Linked DNA regions of Homo sapiens. The protein of the gene in region 7 purifies or fractionates together with the protein of the main gene of each other region. This does not show direct contact. Each region holds a gene or a part of one and is shown on either strand. Other genes may lie near its edges.

Region 1 (3,500 bases), on a different chromosome or scaffold from region 7:
ATTTGACACTTCTCCTCTGCTGCTGCCCAGACAACAGTATCTTCTTTCTTCTACTCTTCCACTCTTGTCCACTCCCGTCCCCATCCACTCTATCCAGCTGTCACAGTTATTCTTTTAAAACAAAAATCAGGCCATGCCACTTTCCTGTTCAAAGCCCTCATTGGCTTCCTATTATACTTAGAATAAAATATAAAGTCCTTCCTAACCTACAAGGAGCCATATGATCTAGCCTCTGGTGCCTGTTTGACCTCATTCCTCACCATAGCTCAGCGTGGGCATGCTGGCTCCGAAGGCTTCTTGCTGTTTTTCAAACACATGCAGCCTTGCTGGGACACCTGGATAGCTATAAGCAAAAGAATGGAGCCTGGACTCCTACCCCACTCAACAACCTAAAGATTAGAGCTGCAACTATAAAGGTCTTTGAAGAAAACAAAGGGGCTTGGACTTGACAATAAATTCTTATATATGGCACTAAAAGCACAAACAAAAGGGAAAATAGATAAATTGGAATTCATCTAAATTAAAAACTTCTGTGCATCAAAGGACGTTACCAAGACAATGAAAAGAAACCTACAGAATTGGAGAAAATGTTTGCAGATCATATATCTGATGAGGGTCTAGTATCCAGAATACACAAAGAACTCTTACATCTCAACAACAAAGACAAATGACCAAATTTTAAAAGGTGGCAAAGGATTCAAATAGACTTTTCACCAAAGAAGATATACAAAACGGTTAACATGCATATAAAAAGATGCTCAGCATCATTAATTTCAAGGAAAATGCAAGTCAATACCATAAACCCACCAGAATGGCTATAATAATAATACTAATAATTTAAAAACCAGAAAATAACAAGTGTTGGTGAGAATGTTGAAAAAATAGAGCGCTCATACATTGCTGGTGGGAATGAAAAATGGCACAGCCTCAGTGGAAAAGAGTTTGGTTGTTGCTCAGAAAGTTAGACACAGAATTAGCATATGACCCAGCAATTCCACTCCTAGTTCTATATCCCAAAGAACTGAAAACAAGTATTCAAACAAATACATGCACATGAAGGTTTGTAGCAGCACTGTTCACAGTAGCCAAAAGGTTGAAACAACCCACATGTCCATCAACAGATGAGTGACAAAACAAAATGTGGTCTCTCATATAATGAACTACTATCCCGCCATAAAAAGAAATGAAATATTGATACATGAAAACATTATGCTATGTAAAAGAAGCCAGTCACAAAAGGCACATACTGAATGATTCCATATATGTGAAATATCCAGAATAAGTAAATCTGCAGAGACAGAAGATGAATTGGTGGTTGCCACAGGCTGGGGAAAGGGGAGAGAATAGGGAGTGGCTGCTTAATGGGTATAGGGTTTCCTTTTCAGAGATGAAAATGTTTGGAACTACACAGAGGTAGTGGTTGCACAACACTGTGAATGTACTAAACTACCCTGAACTGTCCATTTTATAATGTTTAATTTCCTGTTAGCCCAGCTCAAGCCCTGGGCTCTGGCTGTCCCTCTGCCTGTGAACAGAGTTCCAGAGTCCTCCCCAGAGTTGTTCCTGGTCTGCCTTCCCTATGTTCAGGTCCCTGCTCACAAAGTCATCTCCTGAGGGGTTCTTCCTGACCTTCCCCCACTTAAAGTGTCACTGCTCCTCATCCACCCACCCATCTACACATGCAACAGCAAATTCTCACTCACCTTTCACAGCCAGGCTTGGCTGTTACCTCGAGCCCTAGGCAGAACTAGCCACTTCCTACTAATGTTCCTGCGGCCCTTTACAGTGCAGGGATCTGTCTGCTCACCGTGGCTAGAGGCTAACCCTTCCTCAAGGGCGGAACAGGTCTGTGTTCCCCAAAGTACCGGCCCAGGGGCTTACTCCCCAGCACCAAGCAGATGCTTGCTAAGAGCCTGCTGCTTGAACTGAAGGTAGTTGGTTCCTTCAGAAGGAAACGACTGTGTTGCTGCTTAAGAAGGCATTGCAGTTCCTTAGGACAAAGCCACTCTTTACCCTGAAGGGAGAGAGTATGGCTACAGTGTTAACTGTCCGGGCTCCCTGCCCAGCTGGCCTGGAGGAGCCAGGGCTACAGAAACCTAAGCCTCACCTGGAGCTCCCAGAAGATGCTGCGCGTGTGGCGGTGGTAGTAGTGTCTCAAGGGAATGTACTCCAGGCCCTCTCGGTTTGTCTTCAGATAGTTCTCCACATGCTTAAAGAACCACGGCTTGTAGTAATTGCCAATGCTATTCAGCTGAAATGACAGAGGGCATTGTGATCAGCCTGCAGACAAGCGCCCAGCACCATCGGGGTGTAACAGCGACACCCGGCTTCTGTTCAGCACTCCTGGCCTTTTCAAAGCTCTTTCATGTCTATTACTGCCTTTGAGACTCTTGAAAGCTGGTGAGGTTAGGCACAGCGGGTATCCTCTAGCAGAGAGAGCAGGAGCTCAAAGAGGTTAAGTGGTGTGTGCCCAGGGCCAAACAGTGAGTCCCCGACAGTCTAGAGAACTCAGCGACCCCGCCTAGCCTGGTGCAAGTGTTTAACAGAGTTAAACATTTAACTGCCCTGATGCAGTGCCCCATGCAGGGGAATTCCCTCCCTCCCTCCCTTCCCACCTTCCCCAAGGCCAGGGAAGCACGAACTCTGGGAATGGGTCAGCCCCTCAGTGCAACCCAGGGCTCATGGCACCAACTGGTCATGGCACTTTCCCTGCTGTCCCTGGACCAAGCTCCACAGTCCTCCGGGTACAGCACTCCCCAGGCAGCCACCATCGTCTGGAGGATGCTCACATGAATAAGGCTCATACCTCCCTGGCCCTGGGGGCTCCCACACCCAAATCTTCTATTGAGCTGATGTCTCCTGCAGCCCTAAATGGTCATGACTCAATGTGCTGTGTGCCTTGGGATGGCTGAGCTTCTCCTGGCCTCAGCTTCCTCATCCATAAATGAATTCTGGCAGATGCTCTCGGGGAGAGGCAGGGGGGATCCTGGAAAAGCACAAGCTTTAGGGTGGGCAGCTGGGGACACACCCAGGCAGGTCATCTCTGAGCCTGTTTCTTCACATGTAACATGACAATAAAAATACATACTTTGTGGGAGTTATTTGTCTATTAGAAATTACATACATATGCCCACTGTTTTTAAAAAATAGGACCATCTTTTTTTTTTTTTTGAGACAGAGTCTCGCTCTGTCGCCCAGGCTGGAGTTCAGTGGCACGATCTTGGCTCACTGCAAGCTCCACCTCCCTGGTTCACGCCATTCTCCTGCCTCAGCCTCCTGAAAAATGGGACCATCTTACACGTACTGTTTGCCAATTTGCTTTTTCCATTTACAACACACTTAGCAGAGCCTAGGCAGGTTACTTAGCATTTCTGGAAGACTAAAAGAGATGATGTAGAAAGTGCCAAGCACGGTGCCTGGTCCACAGGTGGCTGAAGTATCAGTCCCCACCCATTCCCTTGTTGACCTGCTCTACCCTACAGCCAGGCAACCCTTTGCCG
Region 2 (3,500 bases), on a different chromosome or scaffold from region 7:
AACATCTGAAGAGGTATTTAGCCTACACCTGCCACAGCCTTACCACTCTCCAGTGAAAACTTTCAGAGTAGCAGCAGCAGCACTAACAAGCTTACTCCTCACCTTCTCAAACTCTATGCCTTCTCAATATCACACTATAACAGGCACCCACACTGATACTGATCCTCTACCTTATACCCTCAAAATACTTTTCCTCTGATTGCTATAGTGACCACAGAGGCAAAGTAATTTTTACTTTACATTATCTGCTCTTTATCCTTTAGAATCATTCCTATTCAAGTGACTTATCCCAATTTTGTGTGCAAATTTTTCATTTTCTCACCACTTTGTATTATTATTTTCTCTATTTTCATTTCCGTAACATAGCAAATTAAGAAAAGAGTTCTGGAATAAGATTGCCTAGGTTCCAATCCCAGCTCACTAACACTCTTTACTAGTAAAGGGTGCTCATTGATCTCAGTCAGATTATTTCTCTGAGCTTTAGTGTCCTGGTCTGTAGAATGGAAATAGAATATTTCCTTCATAGGGTTGATGTGAAGATTAAGGGATCAAATGTGCATGAAACACCTAAAGTGAAATCTCAATAAGTTGGCCACTTTTATATAATAATAAATCCTTAATGCTTTAGTACTTACATAAGTAATGAATTACATTCACTTCAAATAAACACAACACAGAAAAACCACTTACAGTAATTATAGGCTAAAATAACAATGCATGACTTGCCTGCTAATATTATACATTAGTGAGTGGTTTCTTATTTATAAAAGTTGAAGGTCTTTAAGTAGAAGAGCTTCTGCATTTTAAAAAAAAAAAAAAAAAAAGAGCTGCCGAATTGTAACACTAACATTTTGAAAAGGAAGCAGCAAAAACTTGGATTCTAGAAGAGATTATCTTCTAGTGGCTCTTAAGACTGTGACAGTACAGCTAGTGTCAATTCGATAGTGATTAACTTAATCCAGTGTTTAATGTAAAGCACAACTTCTTGGTAGATGTGAAATGTTTTCTTATATTTAGGGTCCAGCTTATCTGAAATACATTATGCCCGAAAATATGAACTACTCGCCAGAACTCTGAAGTTTAGATTTGGGTTATTTTAAAGCTCATGCGGTAAATGAATTAGAAAGGTTATATTAAAGAAATACAACCAATGCTACAGAGAAATAGCTTTGTTGGTTAATACATATTCACTTCAGTTCAACAAGCATTGACTGAATACCTTCCACATGCAAAGCTCCTTATGTAGGTACTTTGAGAATTCAAAGGTAAGTTATGACCTGATCCTTACTCTCAAGGAACTTACTATCTAGCAGAGGAAACAAATATTTAGTATACAGTTAAATATTTAATATGCAACTAAAGAGCCATTCTTTCAGCAAGGATGTATTGCTTGCCCATCAAACGCCAGGCATATAGAGGAAAGAGTGCATTATGAACTAAAACAGAGGCATGAAATATAACTAGAGAAAAGTGTCATTCTGAAGGAGGACTTCATATGGCCGCACCTGAAATGCCTGAATTATAATCGCTACCACCCAGGCACCAGAGTGTGTTTGCTTCACAGAGGTTGTGGCTTTCTTGAGCACTGAATAGGGACCTGAGATCTTCTGTGAATGTGTAACTTTTTCACATAATTCAAAGACCTCAAATTAAGAATTTCTTACAAATGGTTTTGTTTGCAAAGAAAGAATTACAAAACTTGTGTCAAGATAGGATGCATACTGACCTAGGAGTTTTTTTTTCAAAGAAGTCATCAATTATTTTTCTAACCTTATGTGACTATTTCATCACTCTTTTTACTATTATTTACAATGTTTTCTTCTACTCTGATGTTTTCCAGATCTGAAGGTAAATATGAAGTAACTTAGTAACTGAAATTCTTGAACTTCTGATGAAGCTCTAATTGGATCTTCAACTTTAGGAAAAAAAAGGCTATTTACTTTGTCAAACAGCTCTGGATTGAAAGTAACCTCTGTTCATATCTTTAATGGAACATATAACCTTTATAACTAACCACAATGTTCAGTAATGCTACTAAGTTTTGGCATGTAACAGAAAAATACAGATTACTGTTCATTATTTAATTTGTCTGTCTGCATTTATGATATTTATCATAAACTGTAAGATAAAGGAAATAAGTAACGATTTAATTATGATTGACTTAAAAGATTCCAGTGATTAAAACTATTTAAGAACAATAAAGACATAATACAGTTAAGTGTAGGCACTTACTCAGTATATAAATCTTCTATCATTGCAACAATAATAACGATGAGAGACACAGCAAATATCTGACATCCAGAACCAATCAGAGAGGAAAATATCAGTGGGTGACTTGATGGTCTAAATACATCTCCATGCACCTGTTTCCATCCATATTCATCTCCTAGGTCTCTATCCTATATACAAATATATATATAGAGAGAGAAAAGCAAATCATTCAGAATCAAACTAAAACATAGTATGTAAAAATTACAGTTGTAAGTTTCCTCCCTCCAAATTTATAGCTAAAGAAATACAAAATATTGAGAAAGTATATTCCAAACTTAGAATGATCACTGCCTTAATAACAATGTTAAAATGCTGAGGTTCAGGAAGTTGACTTCTGGTTGTGCTCAGAGAATCTCAAATAACGGAAAAAGAAAAGGTTTAGTAACAAAAAGAAATGGTCAAATTGGGAGAACAGTGCACTGACTCTCTTAATGCCACTTTCAGACACTATTCTTGCTATTCACATCATAGCTGTAGCTCATATACAATCAGGGGCTAGGTGGAGAAATGAAAGAGAAGAGTATCAAAACCAGTACTAGATCCCCTAAGAATGCAGAAATGTCCTTTAGCGCCTAGAATCTAAGAAAACATATGGGGGAAATATTCAATATGAATGTTTTTATTTAACAGTCTATATGCATTTTTTTAAAAAGAATTCAATTTTTACTTTGCAACCTTAGTAAGCAAGTGCTCCTTAAACAGTTTCTAACACAGCTTGTTTCTAAAACAATATTTCCTAAGGAATAGAAGTCCCTCAAGGTAATCTGTTTTGGTGGGGAGAATCCTAATCAGATACAGTTAAGAGGTACCAAATGCTTTATCCACCCTCTGATACTTCACAATATACCCTAGTATATTAAAATTTAAAATTTGAAACTATTTCCCAAGCCAGGCACGGTGGCTCACACCTATAATAACAGCACTTTGGGAGGCCAAGGCAGGAAGATCGTTTGAGGCCAGGAGCTCAAGACCAGCCTGGGCAGCATAGTGAAATTATCTCTACAATAAATAAAAAAATAGCCAGGGGTGGGGGCTTGTTCCTGTATTCCTAGCTACTCAGGAGGCTGAGGTGGCACGATCACTTGAGCTCTTGAGTTTGAAGTTACAGTGAGCTATGATCGCACCACTACACTCCAGCCTGTCTCTTAAAACAAATTTCCTAAATTTATTTAATGATACAGTATACCTATACCGAATATCCATTAGCTAGCACTCTATGTAACACACTT
Region 3 (3,500 bases), on a different chromosome or scaffold from region 7:
CTGTAGTCCAAGCTGCTGGGGAGGCTGAGGCAGGAGAATGGTGTGAACCCAGGAGGCAGAGCGTGCAGTGAGCTGAGATCGTGCCACTGCACTTCAGCCTGGGTGACAGAGCAAGACTCCGTCTCAAAAAAAAAAAAAAAAAAAAAAGAGAATAGAAAAATCCCTTTGTTTTTTTCCCTACACCCTCAGAGCACTGAAGCCAGTCCTTGGATCTTCCGGAAAAAACAATATTTAAGGTGAGACCTGAAGGATTAGAAGTTGGCAGGACACAGAGAAGATTCCAAAAAGAAGAAGATGGGTAAAGAAAGAAAGAAAAAAAAGAGCCTGGAAAGGTACGTGGGGTAGGAGATCAGGTGGTTTATGGCATGCGATGGAAATTTTTTTAATTTTTAAATCCTTTTTAGAGACAGGGTCTTGCTCTGTCACCCAGGCTGGAGTGCAGGAGTATGATCACAGCTCACTGTAGCTTCAGACTTCTGGACTCAAGCAGAAGTCTCCCAGTTGCTAGGAATACAGGTACACACCACCACGCCTGGCTTTCTTTTCTTTTACATTTTTTTGTAGAGACAGGGTCTCACTATGTTGCCCAGGCTGATCTCAAACTCCTGAGCTCAAGCGATCCTCCTGACTTGGCCTCCCAAAGTGCTGAGATTATAGGCATGAGCCACCATACTCAGGTGCAATGGAATTTTTAAAGCTTTATCCTGATGGTATCAAGGAGTCATTGAATGTTTTCATGCAATGTATAGTTGCAGTTTAGAAACAACTGGTGTGGAAAATGTGAGGGTACACTCAAACGCATCCAGGGGGCCTGAGCAGGGGGTTGCAGACCATAGTGGTTGCAGGGACTGTGCTCCTCCCTCAGGAGCAGCTGCCACCTGTGCTTGCTGATGACTGCCAGGTAAGAATGCAGACTCTGTGCAGCTAAACCTTCTGATTTTCCAAGAAAAGTCTGAAATCTGGACCTTTTATATAAAACCTAATTTTAAAACTATTTTAAAATCTTAAACACACACACTCACACCAGATGGACCCAACAAAACTGCTTTACAGGCCCATGGGAATCGTTTACAACCTCTGGCTCAAAAAGTGTGTAACTCAAGCAGGGGGCCTGCTGCGGCAACCCAGGCCTGGGCTCCAGAAGCACTGCCAGAATTGCAGAGAATGGAAGAATGTGAAGAACTGAGTGACAAGGATGACAATGATCTCTGACGTGAGGGACAGAAGCAGGGGAGTCCAGGACAACACGCCAGGTGTGAGCCACCATGCCAGCCCAAAAATTAAAACATAAAAGAATTCATGCATTTGTTCAGCTCAGGGATTCTGGAGTTCCTACTAAGTGCCAGGCGCTGGCTGTTAGGGGTACAACGGCAAACAAGAGGTGTGGGCCTGGTCCTCAAAGAGCTTACATCTAACACAGTGTCAACCTCTAAGAGAATGGCAAAGACAGTAGGTACATTACAGAATGAAAAGAAAAGAGGGCTTGGGAAAGACCCTGAAGAAAACCAACAACTAAGTCATTTATATAAGTCTGAATGTGGTTGACTGCACAGAATTTAGTACTTGTTAACAACTATCCCATGGCTTTGTCTTTCCAGAGCATTCCCTCTATTGTAACCCCTACTTCATTACACTGCACTACTATCTTTTTTTTTTTTTTTGAGACAGAGTTTTGCCCTTGTAGCCTAGGCTGGAGTGCAGTGGCTTGATCTCGGCTCACTGCAACCTCCACCTCCCGGGTTCAAGTAATTCTCCTACCTCAACCTCCCGAGTAGCTGGGATTACAGGCGTCCGCCACCATGCCCAGCTAATTTTTGTGTTTTTAGTAGAAACAGTTTCACCATCTTGGCCAGGCTGGTCTCAAACTCCTGATCTCAAGTGATCTACCCACCTCAGCCTCTCAAAGTGCTGGGATTACAGGCGTGAGCCACCGCGCCCGGACTACTATCACCTTTTTGGTCAGTGCATTCCACTTGACTGTATGCCCCTGAAGCTGGAGAGGTCGCCTTCCATCTGATTCCCCATGAGCAAGTACAGTGCCTAGCACACCAATGAAACACTGTGTATCTTGGACAAAATAATACATTCTATAAGCGAAGCAACTGTTTAATCCATGATTCGTGTCTCACTAAATTTAGCTGTGTGTGACCTGATTCACCTAGAAAAGGTTTTCTAGTCTAATATCCCAGTACTTTTTAAGCAAGGCTACCCCTTACTCTAGAGGAGTATTCCATTTTCAAAACACATTGGAGCAGTGGTTCTTAGGTGAAAATCCAGGTTAACACCTCAACAGCAGATACGGTGTTTTATTTCTCTATCTGCAAGGCCCGGCACTGAAGACTTCTTGCCATTCTAAATTCCTGAAGTTATATCTTTAACCTATTTACTCATTCCTGGTGGAGGAAGAGGAAAAGTTGATAGCTCCATAAAAATACATTGTCAAATAAAGTTACTTAGTTTTCCCTTAACCTCTTCTCATCAAGGTTTGATGAAAGGCAGTTTTTCTCTTGTCCATCGGCCTGTCTGATTGCTAGCCTAGGCAGAGCTTACCTGCTGGAGCCCCTCAGTAATAGAAGTTACTGGAGCCATCCCACAGGTCAGGGCCGAGAGCATGTACCCATCTGAGCCAAGGGAACTGTTGAAATTTCCTTGCTAAAAGAGAAGAAAAAGAAGAGAAAGAGGGAATCCTAGTAATGTGGACAGAAATCAGTCGGACACATCAGAAACAGTGGAGTGTGCTCGTTCACTTTAAGTGAGATAAAATGGTCACAAAGCATTGATCAGCACTCAGAAATGGACGCACGGCCTTGGCAGATGGCAGTTCTCAACAAGTGAGTCCACGGACCCCTGCGGGCCCCCAAGGACAAATGATTGTCCTAATAACACTAAGACATTCATTGTCTTTTCCACAGTGTGTTGTATGGAAAATACAGTTTTGCCTCTGCAAAACTGCAGAGACATGGGCAAGAACCACGGGGTTCTTGCCAAACTGTACTAGGAGTCATTGTCACCTCTACTACCACACGCACTCGCAGTAATAAATAATACACAAAGAAAATACAAGTTCTAAAATTCTTTTAAAAATCAAAGTGTCAGTTTTGCTTTAAAATCCTCTTGATAAAGCAGGAAAATTCATCATTTTGTTCAATGGCAACCCTCGAGGACATGTCTTCTTAATACTCTGTGTGACAAATGAGAATGCGCCCAACGCGCTTCCGCAGCACTGCATTCCAGGGCGGGACAACTGCCTGGAACAAAAGTCCTTGTGCAGCTCCTGAAGTCAAGGGCTAAACTGCCACTTCTTTCATGGAGCATCATTTGTATTGTTTATTTATTTATTTTCGACAGAATCTCACTCTGTGGCCCAGGCTGGAATGCAGTGGTGTGATCTCTGCTCACTGCAACCTCTGCCTCCCAGGTTCAAGTGATTCTCCTGCCTCAGACTCCCAAGTAGCTGGGATTACAGGCATGCACCACCACACCCGGGTAATTTTTGTATT
Region 4 (3,500 bases), about 42 Mb from region 7:
GCCACTGCGCCCAGCTAAGTATTGGGATTACAGGCATGAGCCACTGTACCCAGCCCTACAATCTCTTTTGATCCTTTTAATCAACCCTATGTGATAGGTAAACTCATTTGACCGAGGAAATTGAGGCTTATAACAATTAGAAGATAACAGATAGAAGAGCTAAATGGTGAATTGTATTTTTAGTAGAGACGGCATTTCACCATGTTAGTCAGGCAGGTCTCGAACTCCTGACCTCAGTTGATCCACCCGCCTCGGCCTCCCAAAGTGCTGGGATTACAGGCATGAGCCACCATGCCCAGCCATATCTGCATGTTTCTAAGGAGCAGCTACAGAGCTGTCATCAGACTCAAAAGACCACCTTTGACTCCATAACGGTTAAGATGGTGATTTCTTGGCTTTGGAGACCTTGCTGCTCTGTGATACTTTAGGTACAGTGTTACACAATGTCCCTTTTTGGTCATAGCTGTCCCCAGAGATTTTCAGACCACAGTAGTCCATTGATATGCTTAGATCAAATCTTCCAAATTGCAACTCTTCACAGATAACTCTGAGGGTGCTTGACACAGAAGTGATTTTCATTTGCTGCTGGGATGCAGAAGGGAGTCATTCAGTGAATGAGGTTTGCACTCTTCCCAGCATCCCCATTTAGCAACCCTGTTTAATTACAGTCTTCTTGTTCTCTGTGTCTCATGGGAGAAGTTCTTTGCTTAGATGGTTTTCTTGAATTGACAGATTGGAAAGTCTCAGGAAATGTCCCTTTCAAGCGGCAATAATTGGACACTCTCTCCCTTCCCCCCATGTTACATTACGTTATCTTATTTTTGCAGCATCATTTAAAAGGTATTTCAACTTCTCCCTGGAAAGAGACAAGTATTCAATAAAGAAATACATTTTCTATGTTCTAATTGAGAAAACTGAAGTTCAGAACGATATAAATGTCATTATTGAAATTCCTAGATATTATGAGGCAGAGGAGAAAAGAGAAATTAGTCCCCATGATTTCTGGTGAGTCTGCTATACCCTTAAGGCTCCCACTTGCTAAGCGTATGCTATTTCTAAACAGGCTGGGGTGGGGGAGTGTGGCCAGGGCCCGGCAAGGTGAACCACTAACTAGAATTCTCTTTCTGCTTCCTCAAGGGCTTGACTTTGTAGAAACTCAGTGAGTCTATTGGGGCCTCTTGGTTGTTATTAATAAATTAGGGAGCCTTCCAAGTGCCTTCCTGGGTTCTTTGACTACTGCACGGGAGTGCTGAGAGATCCCATGGAATGAAATTTCAGGAGAAATGCAGACAGGTTGGGCGTCTTAGAGGAGAGTCTCCATGAAAAAGCTGCTGTATGTCATTACATCACATTAGGAAGAACAGCCACATTGTTCTCATTTCAGCTAAGTAAACACTTCTAACGTCATTTATTCTTACGTATTTTTCCTCTTTTTCTATAGGTGTTGTTTCGGTTGATCACCTTTGTCTTGAATGCATTTATTCTTCGCTTCCTGTCAAAGGAAATCGTTGGCGTAGTAAATGTAAGGTAGGAGGAGATGCACCCTGGCACTGTCAGAGTTCACCTTCCTAGCCAGGCTTTCTTCAAACTCTGTACCTGTTTGTCATCCTTGGATTCTAGAAGCATGGACCTTTATCAGAAGCAGAATGTCTTAGCAGTAGGCTGAGGAGAAGCGTGCAGGAGTGGAGGGACGCGCAGGCGATGTTGCTTTTAATGGACTCATGGAGTGTTTTCCATTAGCAGCCTCCAAATGCACATTTCTTTGCCAGCTGTTCTGGTTTTCCTGCTCTTGGAAGTCAGGAAGGAGAAGAGTGGGAGTAATTCATTAAAAACTCTCTCTCAGATATAATCCTATGTTCTTGTCCTGCTGACAGCAAAGGAAACAGAAATTCAGTAGTTTGTGAGGATGCGCTTCATAATGGCAGGGCTGGAGCAGCCACCTTCCTTCCCTCCTCAGTGATTTTATAATTGGGATATGGCAACTGGGATTCGAGCTTGAGTCTTTGTCATCAGTTTCTTGGAGGCTCTTGGAAAGATGACTTCTTTGTCTTTTAGACTCAGCTTGTTTCTTCTACTCGCCTCCTTTCTGTTCAAGGACACCCACGCATATTTTGTCTTCACAAATGACACAAAGTATATGAAATGATGTGAGTGCTCAGAATAGCTCAGCTTCTCAGGTGTGTCTTCATGTCCTGATAAATAAGACAATATGTTCCAGACAGCATTTCATGTCTAATACTTACCAAACATATACTCTTGGCTCTGGTCTCAGAGCTTAGTGGCAGGACTCAAGCTTTGAGCAAAGGAATCATCTGTGGAGTTTTGCACTACATAGTGCTGAACAGGGGCCCAGGAATCTGAATTTTTATAAGCTCCTTAGGTGATTTTGAAACAGGGACCATTCTTTGAGAAATATGTTTTCTTTTCCTCTTCTTCACCTTCTTCTTCTTTTTCTTTTTTTGAGACGACAGGCTTTTGCCCTATCACCCAGGCTGGTGTTCAGTGGCGCCATCATGGCTCACTGCAGCCTTGACCTCTTGGGCTCAAGCGATGCTCCCGTATGAGCCTCCTGAGCAGCTGGGCCTACAGGTGTGCACCGCCACACCTGAATAATTTTTTTATTTTTTGTAGAGATGAGGTCTTACTGTGTTGCCCAGGCTGGTCTCGAACTCCTGGGCTCAAGTGATCCTCCCATCTTAGTCTCCCAAAGTGCTGGGATTGTAGGCATGAGCCTGAGAAATATAGGCACTTGGCCCTAAGAAATACTGTTTTAAAAGCAGGAAGGAAGAGGGGCAAATCCTCCTAGGGGCTCAGATTTTTCTCCCCAGGCAGCCTTCCTGAGATTGGCAGGTCCTGCTTTGACAGCCCTTGTCTGGCCTGCCCTGCTCCCCTGCTTAAGGTTTGGTTCCATCTCCTTATTTGCAGTGTTCCACAGAGGCACTGGGTAGCAGGATAATCCTTGGACAACCCCAGAGACCTTAACCCTGGGCTGTCCCTACTCTGGCTTCACCCAGACGGCTGTCTATTGAGGAGGGGAGATCTCAGCTACTCCTCGCTAAGATGCAGGAAGGCTCACCCAGGTGCTGCCCACCTGGGAGGTACCCAGGCACGCCTTGCTGATCTGGGTTGCAGCAGCCTCTGTAATGGTTGCCAGCCTTGTTGCCTGTCTTGAGATTCTTTTGGCCAGAGCCTCCACTCGGTAGAGGCTCAGCTTTTCTCACAGGGGCCATCGGTCACTCGTGTCAGTGTGACCAAGAAGGGTGGGGTTATAATCTTATCTTCTTCTCCTCCTTATGGTCATGGCCACACCTCTGCCTGTAGCCATGAAGGCTGAAGCCTTTTGAGGCCACTGCAGCAGTTTCTATCCTTCACGTAACTGTAGGCACACACCCTCAGGTGTCTTTCATTTGGTTCCTAACTCATTAGTTCTCATGGATCAGACCGGTAGGGGGTCCTGTAAGAGCCCACTGCCTTCCACATCACCACCAGTGGTTTATGAC
Region 5 (4,056 bases), on a different chromosome or scaffold from region 7:
CCCTGAGTCACCCTCAGCCAAGATCTGTCAGCACCCCTTCTCCTATATCCCACAGAGCAGCACGTCCTTCAACCTCCTTTTGTTTTTTGGTTTAAGACGGAGTCTCACTCTGCCCCACCTAGGCTGGAGTGCAGTGGCACAATCTCAGCTCACTGCAACCTCTGCCTCCTGGGTTCAAGCAATTCTGCCTCGGCTTCCCCATAGCTGAGATTACAAGCACCTACCACCACACCCGGCTAAATTTTGTATTTTTAGTACAGACAGGGTTTAACCATGTTGGCCAGGCTGGTCTCGAACTCCTAACCTCAGGTGATCTGCCTGTCTCGGCCTCCCAAAGTGCTGGGAGTATAGGCATGAGCCACCATGCCTGGCCCCTTCAACCTCTTAACATCACCAACAGCACCATCTGGAAGGACAGATCAGGAATACAAGACTTTTGGTCAGGCTGGCATTTGGAAAAGGTCACCAAAGAAAGCCTTGCTCTTCAAAATACTTCATTAGAAGCATGATCTTTGGCATGAGACCAGGGTTCCAAACCTTAGCGTGATTATTTGCTAGCCACACTGCCTTGGGCAAGTTATTTAACCTCTCTGTGTCAGTACCTTCATCTGCAAAATGGAAATGATAATGGTCCTCAGGAAAGAATCTAATAATGCCTGTCAAGAAGTACACACTTGAAAAATATTAGTTCTTCTCCTCACTCTACAACACTTTAAACCCAAACCTCTGTCATCGTCAAGAGATGGAAAGATGAGGAAATCATGAGCAAGAACACACGTCTTTCTAGCCAGTCAGATGCCTGGTTCTATCAGTCCCTGTGTCCTTGGCTGTCAGTCCCCAGAGCTGCTGGAGACAGAGCCCAGAGTGAGCAGGTTTCCCACCACCATCCACCACCCACAACATTTTGCTTCAGCCTCCTCCATTCACCAGTCCCCTTCCCTGTTCTTATCTCCCCCAACACACCACCCCCACCAGCACTGGCCCGGACCTGTTCCCAAAGGACTAGTTTCTGGCCATGTTCCAAGCCCCCTGGAAACACATCCTAGCATCTGGCTCATACTCACAGAGAAAGGGGCAAATGCTATCCAGGAGAATGCATGACCCTCCCAGGAACACTCTGACCCCCCCCAAGGGGATAGCTTCAGAGCTATGTAATTGTCCAACCAACTGCAACCATCCCACCCTGGGCTCCACTCCAGGCACTGCCCATCCCGCAGAACTTGCCGGCCTCCCAACATTTCTGGCACCCCATGCCAGACTGGTATGGCAGGAAACAGGGTAGAGCACTGTTCCAAGCCACAAAATTTCTCTATATGGTCCCCCAACCCACTTTGTCCAGCAACCCATCACTATGAGCCCTGGGAGCACAGACCACCTCCCTCCTCCCCAGAGTCAGGCTCCTAAGCCTTGTGCCTCTACCTTCTCCTCCCCTGAGTGTTGGTCCATTTGCACTCTCACAGATCTGCTGTTCTTCATACCACCGGCTCCCACAGCCACAGCCATGTCCCATTCAGCCTGGCAGGCCCAGGCTCAGTGCCTCCCAGACCTCAAGTCCCTCCCAAACCCTGATCAGGCTGAGACCAGAGTTTGGAACCAGCCAAGGCCAAGGCCCAGCCCTAAGGATGGCTCTGCCCACTGCCTTGCCAAGCCTTCCTGGCCACCTCCTGTCTATCCCATCCCCAGGGCCCATCTGCCCCTGCCCTCCTTGGCAAAAGGAGGCTCCAGGGGATTAAAAACGACTTCAGAAAGTTCATGGTAAGAGGCACTGCCCAGGCGGGGCCCAGCAGTGCCAGCACCACCCACCATACTCGGACATGGGCCTCAATTCTTCAATTCTGGGCCTTTCCAGATGTAGAGGAGCCTACCCAGGGCCTGTATCTGTCGGTCCAGTGCCCGCTGCCGCCTTCTCCCATCCCCAGTCCTCACTCTCCCTAAAGATTACAGAGGGCTCCCACATCACCCTTTACTATGCAACCCCCACCAGGTCCCTCCAGCTCACAGGGGTAATCTGGTAAGGAGAGGATATGGGCAAAGAGGCTCCCACGCCTGATTCCACCTCTAGCCTTTCAGTCGAGCCCCAGAGTCTGCTTTGAATAAAGTCAGCTCCCCTGCCCACCCTGCGGCAGGCCTTGGGGGATGTGGGGAGCCGACCCCACCCCTTTCATTCCCAAGGTTTTGGGTGAGGGGAAGGAGAGGGACTCCCGCAGACAGAGGGCATCCCTCCCTCTGCCCAGGCCGGTTCCTCTCCCCTAAATGGAATCTCCCCCAAACTCGGAGACACCCCACAGCCCCGCAGCAAAAAACTCAGGCCAGCCCCTCCCCCAGTACGTGCCAGATCCTCCTGGCCTCCGGGCCAGCCTGGAACTCGCCCCGTGGAGGGAGGCAGGCGGCGGGCGACGGGGGTGGCGAGCGCCGGACCTAGGAGTCCTCGATCCCACTGCCTCCATGACTTCCCTTTGCCAACCCCAACTCCCTCGGGCAACACTGCCGAGACGACCCGTCCAAGGCTTCGGCGCCCCCACCCACAAACTCTTGTCGAGAGCCGCTCGGGTGCGTTCCAATCCTGGCGCACCGGGAGCCCGAGCGGCCACTTCCCCTAGCCCTCAGCGCGCTCACCTGCCGGCCCGGCTCCGCGCCTGCCCTGGGCCCCCGCCCCGCCGCCCCCGCGGGCTCCGGCCGGCCGGCCGGCCGTCCCGCGGTCCTCCGAGCCCGCGCGTCCTGGCCGTCCCGCCCGCCGTCCGCCGTCCGCCGTCCGCCCGGCCCTCGCCCCCTCCCGAGCTGTCCAGCGCAGCCGCCCTCTACCCCGGATCCAGAAGTCCCCTCCCCGCTGGCTCCCGGACTCCCCGCCTTAAAGGCACAAGCTCCTTTTGTCTGGGCATCCCCCTCCCCCTCCCCAGAAGTGGGGGCCGAGTTGCCCACTCCCCTTCCTAGCAGCGGGGTAGGGGCGGAGGAGGCCAAATAATGGGACCCCTCCCTCCGCGCGCCCCCTCCTCTCCTCCGGCCGCTTCCTCCCCCAGTCCTGGGAAGACAAGCAGCTACTGTTCTGGGATCAAGACCCCGCGGGGAGGGGACCTCGCAGCCCGGTCCCCTTCCCTTCACCCCGGCCGCCTCCTCCGGCATTCCTCTCCCGCCCTCACCCCGGGGGTCCCCGAGCGCGCCCGCAAACCCACCCCTCACGGCTACATCCCCCGCCCCGCCCACCGAGGGTCGCCTTCCTTCCTGTCAGGGTCCCAGGGGTTGGGCCGGCGCCCCGCGCCCACTCTTCATCCCCAATTCCTCCCTGCCCCTGCCCCAGCCCCAGCCCCCACCTAGCCATTCCCGCCCTGCCTGTCACGGCCCTGCGCCCTCCCGCGGGAACTCAGTTTAATAATTAATTAAGCTCTCATTCCACAAGGCGCCAGGTGTGTGCGGCCTGCTTGCCCGCACACCACTTCTTTCCTCTTCCCCCCAGTCTCTGGGGCAGCGGCCCCGAGGCGAACCTCGGGGCCCAGTGGAGGGACCCAGGGAAGGGGCACTCTCCCTGCCGCCCCCACAACCCCCCGCCCTACTCTCTGGGAGCCCCTCCCCCGCACCTGCCAACTTGCAGCCTCACCCCCAGGCATCTTTTACCCAAAGGGCTGTGCTTCTCTGCTGGGGGTTGGAGGGGCTACTGGGGTGCATTGCTAAGTGCACGAACTGAGAAACTGGGTCTTTAGTTATTTCCAGCACGGAGCAGCTGCCCAAGTTACCTGGGAGATGGGAAAATCGTGTGAAAGCTGGTTAACCCTTTGAGGATTAGAGTAATGGTGGAAGCAGAAAGGAGAAGGAGTTTCACTCCAGGATGTACGTAGGTGAGTGTGACTTTAGAGGGGGTGCCATTCTGGAGCTGGGAAGAAGGCAGCCTGCCTGGCTTCCTTTTGAGGCCCCCTCTCCATTCCCTCAGTCAGACCTCTAGCTCCTCCTTCCAATTCAGCCCTTCCCCAAGCAGCCTATTCCCCACCCAAGATCCCAAGACCTAGGTATCTGAAGATGCTTCCTCCTCAGGACCAGCCCTCCCTGCAGTCCTGTCCTTCAAGA
Region 6 (3,500 bases), on a different chromosome or scaffold from region 7:
TTCTGAGAGAGAGAGAGAGAAAGAGAGAGAGAACACATGCATGCATGCTCACAAAGCATATAAGGCCCCCTGAGTCATAGGCTTGGAACTGGCAAAAGTGATTTCCACCATATCCTGTTGGCCAAAGCAAGTCACAAGGCCAGCCCAGATTCAAAGGGTGCTGCAAAGGTCACAGTGCAAGAAGATGAGGATACAGAGAGAGGTATACAGAGGGAAAAAAATGGGCCATTTTGCAATCAATCTATCACATAGACATGAACTTATAAGGAAATGTGTTTGTTTTATTTTTAACATCTGTTTTATAACTATTAGAGGCAAAGCTCTCTGGTTATAGAAGTGTCAACTTTTGGCCAGGCATGGTGGCTCACACCTATAATCCCGGCACTTTTGGAGGCTGAAGCAGGAGGTTCACTTCAGCCCGGTAGTTCGAGACCAGCCTGGGCAATATAGGGAGACCCCCATCTCTACAAAAAATAAAACAATTAGCTGGTGTGGTCATGCACAGTTGTAGTCCCAGCTACTACAGAGGCTGAGGTGGGAAGATCGCTTAAGCCCTGGAGATCATATCTTTAGTGAGCTCTGATTGCACTACTGCACTCCAGCCTGGGCAACACAGGAAGACCCCACCTCAAAAAAAAAAAAAAAAAAAAAAAGGAGTGTCAGCTTTCTAGCATTGTGATGGTAATGCTGTGCACATGTTTTGTGTTTGTGCTTTCCAGAGTATTTTCAGCTGTTGTCTTTGGTGCCATGGCCGTGGGGCAAGTCAGTTCATTTGCTCCTGACTATGCCAAAGCCAAAATATCAGCAGCCCACATCATCATGATCATTGAAAAAACCCCTTTGATTGACAGCTACAGCACGGAAGGCCTAATGCCGGTGAGTTTGATGTTTCAACTGTTTGATCTACTCCTGACTCCTGAATGAAAGTATTTTAAGTGGAAACTTAATAAAATTTGTACTTTCAAATATGCTGATGATAAAATAAAACTTCCTAGATCATAGATTCCTTTCAATTACTGCTAATAATATACATCAACATTCAGTACTTTTACGTAGCAAAGGTTATAGGGAAATAGGAATACTGCTCACTTTATAAGCAAAACCTATTAATCAGATTTTTTAAAAACAATTTTTTTTTAGAGACAGAGTCTTACTCTGTCATCCAGGCTGGAGTGCAGCAGTATGATCATAGCTCACTGCAGCCTTGATCTTCTGGGCTCAAGCGATCCTCCTGCCTCAGCCTCCCAAGTAACTGGGACTACAAGCGTGTGCCATCATGCCCAGCTAATTTTTTAATTATTTGTAGAGACAGGGTCTCGTTATGTTGCCCAGGCTGGTTATCAGATTTTATTGTATGTAAGTTACTGTATTCCTGAGGAACAGATTTGAGTTATTGTAGCTGTATTGCATATTCATATTGTCTTAACAATACATGCTATGAAAGCTTTTACTCTTTTAGATCTCATTTATTAAATTCTAGCAGTCTGAGGTCAAGCACAGTGGCTCATGCCTGTAATCCCAGCACTTTGGGAGGCCAAGGTGGGTGGATCACGTGAGGTCAGGAGTTCGAGACCAGCTTGGCCAATATGGTGAAACTCCATCTCAAATAAAAATAAAAAAAAAAAGATTAGCTGGGTGTGGTGGCACACGCCTGTAATCCCAGCTACTTGGGAGGCTGAGGTACGAGAATTGCTTGAACCTGGGGGGTGGAGGTTGCAGTGAGCTGAGATCATGCCACTGCACTCCAGCCTGGGTGACAGAGTGAGACTCTGTCTCAAAAAAATAAAAAATAAATAAATAATAAAATTAAAATAAAATAAATTCTAGCAGTTTGAAGTGAAGCCAATTGTAACACAAATTAATTATCTTCTGACACCTGGTAATCGAGAGAGTTAGCTATACACTTTATTTTCAGTATTGCAGCATTCAAATTTACTGTTATTCTTCTCATTGCAGAACACATTGGAAGGAAATGTCACATTTGGTGAAGTTGTATTCAACTATCCCACCCGACCGGACATCCCAGTGCTTCAGGGACTGAGCCTGGAGGTGAAGAAGGGCCAGACGCTGGCTCTGGTGGGCAGCAGTGGCTGTGGGAAGAGCACAGTGGTCCAGCTCCTGGAGCGGTTCTACGACCCCTTGGCAGGGAAAGTGGTGAGCACACTTTCACATTTAGCTCAGTTCAGGTTTTCATCATCCAAATGTCTGAATGTATTTAATTCTCAACTATAAGCCATGTTTTTTCAAACCTTTAAACAACAGTCCCACTTGGATAAAGTCTGAGAGCCTAAATATGGTCTCCAAGTGGTGTCATCTGTCCCAGCCAACTTCTCCAGGCTCCCCTCAACACTACCCCTCTACCCTCCTTTGCAAGCACCCTTTGTACCACCTGTCTCCCTTGCTGTACTTAGGTTTCAGCTGACTTGAAAAGAACCAACAAAAATGGAAGTAGCCAGAAAGATACAGGACAGGTGCTAGGAGTGAGATGAAAGCCAAGGATGGAGACTGTTTCAAAGATGGTGGTCAGCAATGACAGATGGTATAGAGAGATTGGGTAAGGAGGAGACTGAGAAGACATGATAGAATCTAGCAATGAATGGGCTATTTCTGACATTTTAAAATATTCTTAGTGAAGTAGTGATGGTAGGAAACAGTTAAGGGTGGCTGAAGTATGATTAGGGGAAGAAATGGAGATGTAAGTGAGCATAGATTATCAAGAAGATGGAAAGTAAAAGAAAGGCAAATAAGGACAGCACTTGAGTGGGGAGGCAGAGTCCAGGGAAAATGTTTAGGGGTTGAACTCTTGAGCATTTTTATGACTGGGGATGAGACAAAATCATTGATGGAGAGAGGGCATTGAAACATCATCTGAGGAAAAAAAAGTAGAATCAACAAATTTGGGAAATGTAAAAAGAACATGGAAGTATGCCCTTTTGTCTTAGTTGCTGGGGATGAGGGAAGTGTCTGGCAGGGAGTAGTGAGTTTAAACGACTATGATGGGGGATAGGAAAGAAGACAAACTAGGAAGGAATAGAATTAAGAGCAAGACATTTTCATTATGTAGGCATGTAATTAGTTGTACTGAGAAGTGATATTTAAAATTCTTAACAATGGGAACAGCATGGACACTGACCAATCAGAATGGATGCCTGCTAGTACAAGTCAGATGGATGCCCACCCGCTGTGTATGGACGCTGGTAGCATTTAATGACTCAAATGAAAAGAGAGTTTTCAATCTTTAGTCTAGGACTCTTTTTACTTCCTCACAGCGGTCACTCTTACTCATAAATGTTTGTTATTGTATTCAAAGACAGTTATGCCTTTATTCAGTTTACTCTTAAATCATTACAAGCTTGTTCCCTACTTTTACTCTCTTGCTTTATATTTTCTGTGAACTCTGATTGTGTCCTTCAATTTTGTGGTGAACTTAAAAACAGGACTCTAAATAAAGACGTCGCTGACAGCCAAAGCAATTAGAGGAGGAAATGTTAGCTCTCAGA
Region 7 (3,500 bases):
CAAAAGCAGAGCAAGGGTGAGATATCAGCTCCCAATGTGCCATTGGCAGGGTCCCCTTATGTGGACACAACATATGCAGTGGCTCTGCCCCCACCTCAAGAACCTTGGGTGGCCCCTCCCAGGCCCGCCCCTGCTTCAGCTCCTGCTTGTGGGGATGAGGGACCCTGAGAAGGAGAGTCTCCAAGTGCCAAGAGACTGGGCTTGGTTCGAATCCCAGTGCTGACTAGCTGGGTGATGCTGGCTAGGTGAGCCCCAGATCCTGCAGCGGTAAAGTGGGACAATAATGCCTCCTTTCTGAGGTTTGTGGAGGATGATATAATGTGTCTTGTACCATGCAGGGTGCAGAATAGATGCCCAACAAATGGTAGAGAGAAGTATTATTAAGGAACAGGGTTTCTGGGGGCCTCTCCCACCTGCCTCTGCCTCTAGAAGTTTCTCCCTGGACCTGAGTCCCCCCAGGGCTTGGTCTAGCCTCATCCTAACAGGGCTAGTCAGGCCTTGTTCTTACCGCCACAATGATTGGTGTGAAGAAAGACCAGCAGAGTTTCCACCAGATGCAGGGCCTGGATCCAACCATCTCTTGGATATTGTCATAGAATCGGTTGACACCTGTGACATTGGGAGCAGGAGGGATGGATGAGCTGTGGGTGCTTCAGGGTCAAAGCCTGGTTCTACCACTTTCTCACAGTGTGACCATGGGCAAGTCACCTAACCTCTCTGAGTCTCAGTTTCCTTGTCTGTACCATGGGGGTTATGCTCTGGGGGTCCTCGTTACCAAGTATTTTTCAATAGCCCAATTCTCACAGCAAGTGGGTTGTGTAGGTGAGCAAGTCACTTTAATGTGAAGATATCTACCAACAAAAGGAGACTGACATGATGATCCCCTCCACCCCTGCCACTCTCAATGTCCCTCCCACTCGACATCTATCCCAGCCATTCCTTCAAAGGCTTTCCTGGGCAGGGGCTGTTTCTCCCTGATGGTCAGATGCTATAAGAAACTGGCAATCTGCCGGACACGGTGGCCCATGCCTGTAATCCCAGCACTTTGGGAGGCCGAGGTGGGAGGATCACCTGAGGTCAGGAGTTCGAGACCAGCCTGGCCAACACGGTGAAACTCCGTCTCTACTAAAAATATAAACATTAGCCAGGTGTGGTGGCGGGCGCCTGTAATCCCAGCTACTTGGGAGGCTGAGGCAGGAGAACTGCTTGAACCTGGGAGGTGGAGGTTGCAGTGAGCCGAGATCGTGCCATTGTACTCCAGCCTGGGGAACAAGAGCGAGACTTCGTCTCAAAAATAAATAAATAAATAAATAAATAAATAAATAAATGAATGAATGAAAGAAAAAGAAATTGACAATCAATTGCAAAGAACTGCAAATCTCATGAAAAAGAAAAACCCCAAACCCCAAACTGGTGTCTTGAAGTTCACCAGAGCGGCTTCGGGCACTGCTCAAATTATAAGCAGAGTCACTGACCAGTGAGGATCTGACCGTGTTGGAACAGTTAGAGAGAGAAGGTGTTATTGGGAGTGTAAATTAGTGCAACCTCTATGGAAACCAGTACAGAGATTTCTCAAAGAATCAGAAATAGAACCACCATTTGATCCAGCAATCCCACTACTGGCTATCTATCCAAAGGAAAAGAAATTATTATATCAAAAAGATATTTGCACTCGTGTTTATTCACAATAGCAAAGATAGGGAATCAACCTAAGTGTCCATCCGTGGATGGCTGGATAAAGGAAATATGGTATACATACACGATGGAATACTATTCAGCCATAAAATAGAATGAAGTCATGCCTATTGCAGCAACGTGGATGGAACTGGAGGCCATCATCTTAAGCAAAACAACTCAGAAACAGGAAGTCAAATACTGCATGTTCTCACTTAAAGGTAGGAGCTAAACACTGGGCACAGGTGGAATAATAGACACTGGAGACTCAGAAGGGTGGGGGAATGGGAGCTGGGGTGGATGATGAGAAATTACTTAGTGGGTAGAATGTACTGCTGGGCTTGGTGGCTTATGCCTGTAATCCCAGCACTTTGGGAGGCCGAGGTGGGCGGATCATGAGGTCAGGAGGTCGAGACCATCTTGGCCAACATGGTGAAACCCTGCCTCTACTAAAATACAAAAAATTAGCTGGGCGTGGTGGCACATGCCTGTAATCCCAGCTACTTGGGAGGCTGAGGTAGGGGAATTGCTTGAACCAGGCAGGCAGAGGTTGCAGTGAGCTGAGTTTGCACCGCTGCACTCCAGCCTGGTGACAGAGCAAGACTCCATCAAAAAAATGAATAAAATAAAATAAATAAAAATAAAAATAAAAAAAGAATGTACATTATGTGGTGATGGGTACACTAAAAGCCCAGACTTCACCACTACACAAGATATCCAGGTAACAAAATTGCACTCATGTCCCTTAAATTTATACATATAAAACAAACAAAAAAGAAGGGACAATGACAAGGAGGATGAGGTGGCAGATATTGCAAAGGGGGACACAAAATATCATGCTTCTTTAAAAACATTTGCTCTGATGGGACAATCAAAGGTGCAGGAAAGGATGTTGTCATTTTTTACTATCATGCAGTTGGCTCAAGAAACTTAGGCCACAAAATAAACAAAATCAATGTTTCTTTTGTTATTTGTTTTAAGATAGTGCACACTTTTAATTACAGCCTAGACTGTGTTAAATATATAACTTTAAAACTTTAAAAAGTAGTTTTGGTTTCCCTTTTCTGGATAAAATCTCCACTTATTTTAAATGAATTCATTTAACTGCTCTTATATCTTCTAAACATGGGGGACTCCTGGACTAACCTCATTGAATTGTAATGTGAAGAATAAATAAATAAATAAATGTAAGGAGAAGACCTGGGGTTCAAATTGCACTTGTTGAATGATGACTCAAGAAAGGAATGAATGGATGAATGAGTGAATGAATAAGGGATGAGGGGCTGATACTCACCGTAAAACCAGGAAATAGAGACACATTCAAAGAACACGAGGAACAGCAGGCTCATGCCACTGGCAGAGTAGTAGTCAAAGAGTTTGAAGACATAAATACCCCCCTGCAAGATGAAAAGAGGTGAGAACAGGTGCATTGTCCCCGGCGCCCACTGCATCCAGTTCACAGACCACATGGACTCTGGAGGCTGATGGGGCTGGGATTAGGCTTCAGGGTAGATTAGATGAAGCACTGAGGGCTTTGTGACCACGAGAGGATGTGGACATTGACAGTCCGGGCATTGGGAAGGAAATGTCCAGGTGGTAGAGGAAAATGCCAATTTCTGGTAAGGTTGGAGGGCAGAAAGCGGAGTTGGTCACCAGGGCCATCTTTTTACAGTGTAAATCAGTCAGGTCTCTCCCCTGCTTAAAACCTTTCAGGACTTAAATGAGACAATAATATAACACATAAATAAGCAGAGAGAGATCTAATCCAATCCCATGCCATCCAATCCCATCCCATCCCATCCCATCCCATCCCATCCCACCCAAAT

Evidence for each region.
Region 1: the proteins of SLC6A1 (region 7) and DHCR24 purify together in Homo sapiens (affinity purification with mass spectrometry, with the first as the bait; one large-scale study listed by BioGRID). This does not show direct contact.
Region 2: the proteins of SLC6A1 (region 7) and TM9SF3 purify together in Homo sapiens (affinity purification with mass spectrometry, with the first as the bait; one large-scale study listed by BioGRID). This does not show direct contact.
Region 3: the proteins of SLC6A1 (region 7) and KDSR purify together in Homo sapiens (affinity purification with mass spectrometry; one large-scale study listed by BioGRID and IntAct). This does not show direct contact.
Region 4: the proteins of SLC6A1 (region 7) and RFT1 purify together in Homo sapiens (affinity purification with mass spectrometry, with the first as the bait; one large-scale study listed by BioGRID). This does not show direct contact.
Region 5: the proteins of SLC6A1 (region 7) and ADCY6 purify together in Homo sapiens (affinity purification with mass spectrometry; one large-scale study listed by BioGRID and IntAct). This does not show direct contact.
Region 6: the proteins of SLC6A1 (region 7) and ABCB1 purify together in Homo sapiens (affinity purification with mass spectrometry; one large-scale study listed by BioGRID and IntAct). This does not show direct contact.

The regions. Positions count from the first base shown.
Region 1 is NC_000001.11:54,863,196-54,866,695, forward strand, and holds part of DHCR24 (delta(24)-sterol reductase precursor), read right to left. Parts: intron 2,252-3,500; coding exon 2,108-2,251; intron 1-2,107. UniProt on the Homo sapiens protein: Catalyzes the reduction of the delta-24 double bond of sterol intermediates during cholesterol biosynthesis.
Region 2 is NC_000010.11:96,549,013-96,552,512, forward strand, and holds part of TM9SF3 (transmembrane 9 superfamily member 3 precursor), read right to left. Parts: intron 2,400-3,500; coding exon 2,233-2,399; intron 1-2,232.
Region 3 is NC_000018.10:63,332,707-63,336,206, forward strand, and holds part of KDSR (3-ketodihydrosphingosine reductase), read right to left. Parts: intron 2,653-3,500; coding exon 2,551-2,652; intron 1-2,550.
Region 4 is NC_000003.12:53,123,936-53,127,435, reverse strand, and holds part of RFT1 (man(5)GlcNAc(2)-PP-dolichol translocation protein RFT1), read left to right. Parts: intron 1-1,441; coding exon 1,442-1,527; intron 1,528-3,500.
Region 5 is NC_000012.12:48,786,290-48,790,345, forward strand, and holds the start of ADCY6 (adenylate cyclase type 6), read right to left. Parts: upstream 2,801-4,056; 5' UTR 2,617-2,800; intron 2,568-2,616; exon of another isoform or gene 1-2,567. UniProt on the Homo sapiens protein: Catalyzes the formation of the signaling molecule cAMP downstream of G protein-coupled receptors. Functions in signaling cascades downstream of beta-adrenergic receptors in the heart and in vascular smooth muscle cells.
Region 6 is NC_000007.14:87,513,885-87,517,384, reverse strand, and holds part of ABCB1 (ATP-dependent translocase ABCB1), read left to right. Parts: intron 1-719; coding exon 720-876; intron 877-1,956; coding exon 1,957-2,154; intron 2,155-3,500. UniProt on the Homo sapiens protein: Translocates drugs and phospholipids across the membrane. Catalyzes the flop of phospholipids from the cytoplasmic to the exoplasmic leaflet of the apical membrane.
Region 7 is NC_000003.12:11,030,748-11,034,247, reverse strand, and holds part of SLC6A1 (sodium- and chloride-dependent GABA transporter 1), read right to left. Parts: intron 3,072-3,500; coding exon 2,969-3,071; intron 610-2,968; coding exon 509-609; intron 1-508. UniProt on the Homo sapiens protein: Mediates transport of gamma-aminobutyric acid (GABA) together with sodium and chloride and is responsible for the reuptake of GABA from the synapse. The translocation of GABA, however, may also occur in the reverse direction leading to the release of GABA.